Linked DNA regions of Homo sapiens: region 1 is linked to region 2. The links come from fine-mapping of genetic effects on gene expression. A gene starts in region 2. The other region holds a variant in brackets. All regions are shown on one strand. Distances are from middle to middle.

Region 1 (2,909 bases), 210 kb after region 2:
TAACTGGTAGCTTTCAATAAACTCTCTCGCCTCACTACACTCGGACCCTCGCCTTGAATTTTTTACTGCGCAAGATCCAAGAACTCTCACATGGGGTGTGGACTGTGACACCATTTTAGGCAACAAAACGACTGAACGTTATACAAAAACAGACAATTAATCCAATTCTCACAAAAGCAGGAATTTGGTAGTCCTCATCCAGCATGCCAAGCAAAGATCCACACTGTGGAGTCAGCGCTCACGAGAACAAAGGGGCTGACAGCTGGGAAACATGGGTGGATGAAGGGTGAGGCGCTCAGCAGCCGCCAACTGGGATTATTGGAAAGGGCAATAGGGTATTGAAAGGCGGAGGACACGGTCTAAAACGATACAAAAGCTGCAGAGCCACTGGGCCTGCGAGCTTCCCATGGGGAAGCCGGGACTCCCTGACAACTGCACAAACTCGCGTGGGGATTTCAACATCCCGAAGCACCCAGATTCCTTCTGGGCGGGTTCTGGACAGAGAGCGGGGACGGAACGGGAGGGGTAAAGGTCGCCGAGGGGGCCGGGCCAGAACAGGTGCTGGGTCGGGGAGAGAGGGTGGAGGCAGCTTTGGAAACCGGGCCTGGTTAGAGGGTGGGGGTGGGGCCTGGAATGGGAGTGGGCGGGGCAAGAGGGAGGAGGCTGCCTGGGGGCCGGGCTGGACAGCAGGAAAAGGCGGGACCCGAGGGTTAGCGTCATCTTGGGGGTGGGGTCTGGAAGGGGTTTTTTGTTCTGAAGGGCGGGGCCTGGAGGGGGCGGGTCCGGATTCTTTTCTCAGCTGGGCCGTGGATGTCGCCTGCTCTCATCCTCTTGCCCTCCAGGACTGGGTCCTCCGGGTTCTGATTGGTGGATTGTTTCTGATGTGCCATGATATTACCCCTAATATCACAGGGATGCTTCCTGCCCGTTGAAGTTACTATTTCGAACAATCGAAGGTAAAACAACATATTGTAGTGGGCCACCTGTACTGAACGTTGAATCGTTTTTCCTCTTAAGTTGAAAATAGTTTCAATGCAAAGAGCTTTTTTGGAGAAGGTAGAGTCGCGCGTCCTGCAGGCGGGGCAAGCTCCCCTCAGTCTGGGGCAGGGCGGTGGAGAGGGTCAGGGACCTCGGTAAAGGGGTGGAGTGGGGCGCTGGTTGCAGCGGGCACAGACAATTAGAACGGCTTATTAAACTAAGCAAGGTCCTGGGTTGGGTTGTTTGAGTGGATAATGGAAACTGAAGGGTGACAAGCAGAACTGCCTATTATACACAGGAGGTGAAGGACAATTTCATATTTCATGGAAATAAAGTCA[G/A]GGCCCGGAGCGGTGGTTCACACTTGTAATCCCAGCACTTTGAGTGGCCGAAGTGAGAGGATCGCTTGAGCCCAGGAGTTTGAGATCAGCCTGGGCAACATGATGAGACGTCGTCTCTAATAAAAATATAAAAAAATCAGCCAAGTGTGGTGGTGCGCGCCTGTGGTCCCAGCTGCTGGAGCGCTGAGGTGGGAGGATCGCTTGAGCCAGGGAGTTGGAGGCTGCAGTGAGCCCTGATCTCACCACCACACTCTAGCCTGGGTGTCAGAGCTAGACCCTGTCTCAAACAAACAAGCAAATAAATGAGAGGTGTAATTCCTCCTGTGAAAATAAAGAGATTTACTTTCCTTTCGTCTCTTTTCTTAGGAGACTTATTTAGAAAATTTGTAAATGGATTTTGTCTGTCTTCTGAGGTTTTTTGTTGTTTTGTTTTTGTTGTTTGTTTTTTAGATGGAGTTTTGCTTTTGTTGCTTAGGCTAGAGTGCAATTGCACGATCCCAGTTCACCGCAGCCTTCAACTTCCGGGTACAAGCCCGGTTTCGAACTCCTGACCTCAAGTGATTCGCCATCTTGGCCTCTGAAAGTGCTGGGATTACAGGTGTGAACCACCACACCTGGTCTGAAGTGGTATTTTTTAGAAACTAACTAAACCTTTTTTCAGCTTGATGACCCAGGGATGTATTTCTGAAGGACTTGGGAGCTCTCTTTGAAAGGCAAAATACAAGGGAGACAGTACCTGTATCTCAGTAGGAAATTAAATAATTCATACATCAAATAATTCCAATTTAAAGCTATGACCTTTAAATAATTATGAGCCTTTGAAGAGAGAGGCCATTTCTCTTACTGTCTCCTGTCTCTGAAGTAAAAGCTGAAAAACAACAGGAATGAAGTCAGTGGCAAGACCAGCTGGTGCCACTGATGACCAGGCCTGAGGTTAAAATATTAACCCCCAACTCTAACCACATGTGCTCTCAATCTATCATGACCCTTTCACGTGGAACCCCTTACAGTTGTAAGCCCTTAAAAGGACCAGGAACTCCTTCTTGGGGGAGCTCGGTTCTTGAGATGCCAGTCAGCCGATGCTCCCGGCCAAATAAAGCAACTTCCTTCTTTAACCCTGTGTGTGAGGGCTTTTGTCTGTGGCTCGTCCTGCTACACCTTGAGAGAAATGTGCTCATTCAGCTTGAGTCCAGTGGAATGCAGGCGTAACTTCTACGAGTTTTCCTTGCCACGTGTGGTGGCCCACACCTGTAATCTCACCACTTTGGGAGGTCGAGGTGGACAGATCACTTGAGGTCAAGAGTTTGAAACTAGCATGGCCAACATGGTGAAACCACCTCTCTACTAAAAATACAAAACAAAAGGCCAGGCGTGGTGGCTCACACCTGTAATCCCAGAAAATTGGAAGGCTTGGGCGGGTGGATCACAAGGTCAGGAGTTTGAGACCAGCCTGCCCTACATGGTGAAACCCCATCTCTACTAAAAATACAAAAGTTAGCTGGGCTCCTAGCTACTCGAGAGCCTGAGCCAGGAGAATCGCTTGAACCCGGGAGGCAGAGGTTGCAGTAAGCAGCTGAGATCGTGTCATTGCTC
Region 2 (2,909 bases):
TGGGTGACAGAGTGAGACTCCGTCTCAAAAAAATAAATAAATAAATAAAAGAAAGCAAAAGAAAGCATTTAAACCTCATAAGCTGAACAATACATTTAAGAGAAAATACTTTGAAAATTTTTTTTAAATCCAATAAATTATGGAATTACATTTAAGACAAGTTGAATACACGTCAAATTTAGAAAATGACACAAGCCACACACAAAAAAGGAGGGAATAATATTGTTAATGTCTGTTTGCAAAAGCAGCATACGGTGTCACAGTTTCTTCCCATTTCTTGACTCTCCTCAAGATCAGAGAAAGGGAAGAGGGTGAGCTGGAATTAACTGAGCTAAGTCAGTTAACCCTCTGGCTGAATAAGGGTTGCTTCTGATGTAATAATTAGAAAACGCAGAAGCCTCACACCGTAGTTTTGCAATTTTCATGCTCTTCTGCACAAACAATGAAGCAAATTTTAAATTAATTATAGAGCCATACATCAGTACTTCACAACTTAATGTTCCATATTAAATCAATCCACACTCACATGGATTTGGGTGCCCCCCCCTTTCTCCACCATTATGTGATTTTTTTCCCCCTCTCTATAAATGTTTCTCTTCCACCTTCTGTTTCTTTCCTTTTCTTTTTCCCATTTCGGCGTTTTCCTGTCCCTTTCTGCTCATTTGGCTTCCCTTCCTCTCCTTCTCTGACAGAGTGTTTGGCCCCATCCTGGTAGCATCCTTTTTTTCAGTCCCTGCTATTGTTTCTGATGGCTCTCTAATTTCGCGCATTTCTCCCTCTTTATCCTCCATTTCTGCTTCCCCTCTGTTCTCCCTGGAGAAGGGCGAAGGGTGTGTATCCACCCCGAGTGAGGGCTTTACCAGGGGGAGGGAAGAGGGAGTCAGAGAAGAGTTTTAAGCAGAGAAACGACGCGGTGGGCGGTCGGTGTCCACACTGACCTAAAGCAAAAAGGTCGGGGCCAGTACCCACTTCAGAACGATTTTAATCCGAAATGGACGCAGATCTCTAGACCCTCTCGGAGCGACGGGACTGGGAACGTCTTAGGGCCACGCCGCGAGAGGAATGAGCAGGTTCGGGGTTTTAACCTACAGGGCGACCCCAAAACCCGACAGCGGAGCGTGGGAACCTGTGGCCCGCGAGGCGCAGGCTTGAACCCGAAAGACGGAGACTCACCCGAGAGCGCCAGTAGCCCCGCGAGATCCGCTTCCGGGTCGGCAGGAACCTGCGCGTACGCGAGTGCACTGGGGCGGCGCAAGGGGCAAGGGCAGGGGCAGGGCGCGGACAACTGTGGGGATGGGCGGGCAAATGGCGGGGATGGGCGGGGACAATGGCGGGATGGGCGGGGACAATGGCGGGATGGGCGGGGCCTAGGGGTCGGACTGCCGGACCTCTCCTCGGCGCGTCCCAGCGACTTTTTTAGGCCTGTTTGTCGCCCAGCAGTACTCGATTCTTCACTTTTGGATTCCCTTGAATCTCTATGGTGTCCTTTGGAGCCTAGCTAAGTAAAAAATTAGAGACCTGTGGGCCCCTTATATTGGAATCGGAGCTTAAGATGGGAAAGGTTTGCTTGAAAACGTTTCTGCGAGCGATGGAGGCGCGTCCTGCGACGAGGCGGGAGGAGCGCTGGGACCTGGTGGATGGGAGAGGGCGACGGTATAAGGAAGCTCTTGGATCCAGGAACTTCTGAAATCCGGACGATTAAAATTTGTATTTAATTAAGCGAAAGCTGGAGTTGTCTGCGTAGGTGATGGAAACTGGAATGAGATGCATTTTTGTGCCTGTGCGGAGTGTACAATTTTATATTGACTTTCACTGGAACGTAATTTTTATTTCCGCTCCCCAGTCACCCAGGAGGCAGAGATGCACCATGGGCTGAGTTCCAGAGAATTTATGGGGTCAGACCCTGGGCGGTGGGGGGTGGAAGGCTGAGGCTTGGCTTTAAAAGAACGCAAAGTTCTGCTTGTATCGATCTAAATTTATTTTCCTTTATTATCCTAATGCACATTTCTTGAGATAAATTACAAATCCAAGTGCTGGATTTATTGGAGTTGGTATGTTGTGTTTTGTCTAAGTTATTAATTACTAATATACTATCGTTATTATTATTTTTATTATTATTTTGAGATGGAGTCTCTGTTTCCCAGGCTGGATTGTAATGGCGCGATCTCGGCTCACGGCAACCTACGCCTCCTGGGTCAAGCGATTTTCCTGCCTCAGCCTCCCGAGTACCTGGGACTACAGGCGTGTGCCACCATGCCTGGCTAATTTTTGCATTTTTAGTAGAGACGGGGTTTCACCACGTTAGCCAGGTTGGTCTGGGACCCCTGAGCTCATGTGATCCGCCCACCTGGGCCTCATGAAGTGCTGGGGTTATAGGCGTGAGCCACCGCTCCTGGCCTTTAGTCTGTAAAGTCTTTATTCTCAGTTATTTGGAAGAGTATTTTTAACATAATATGTGCTTGGCAATTCTCCTGGCCAACTGAATTGATTTCTCTTGGGCCCAGAGAGGAAACTTATTGACTGGAGGCTCCCCAAGAGAAGATGAGCCCATATGGGGGTATCTGAGTAAACCAAGGTCTATCCACTGTCTCTTTGGGTCTCTGTTTTCGTAACTGGGAATTACATCTGATAACAGGTGAAGGGTGAAAAAAAAATGAGAGTGCATTTTAGCATAAAAATACATATATGTTATTTACATATAAACATACACATATAAAAATTCTATTTATTTTACATATAAAAATACATATATGTATTTAAATTTTTTTTTTTTGAGACGGAGTCTCACCCGTACAGACGGGGTTTCACCGTATTAGCTACGATGTCTCGATCTTTTGACCTTGTGACCCACCCATCTTGGCCTCCCAAAGTGCTGGGATTACAGGTGTGAGCCACAGCGCCCAGCCTCT

Evidence for each region.
Region 1: its variant is fine-mapped to the expression of ZNF677 in activated CD8 T cells (Schmiedel 2018, PIP 0.95).

The regions. Positions count from the first base shown.
Region 1 is chr19:53,462,774-53,465,682 of GRCh38, forward strand. It overlaps the pseudogene VN1R102P. Among named protein-coding and RNA genes, the nearest start is that of ZNF813, 3.5 kb to the right of the region's middle. The variant G/A (reference allele first, on the strand shown) is at 1,317.
Region 2 is chr19:53,253,661-53,256,569 of GRCh38, forward strand. It overlaps ZNF677 (zinc finger protein 677), which reads right to left and starts at 1,213. Exons shown (of 5, transcript NM_182609.4): 1 at 1,174-1,213.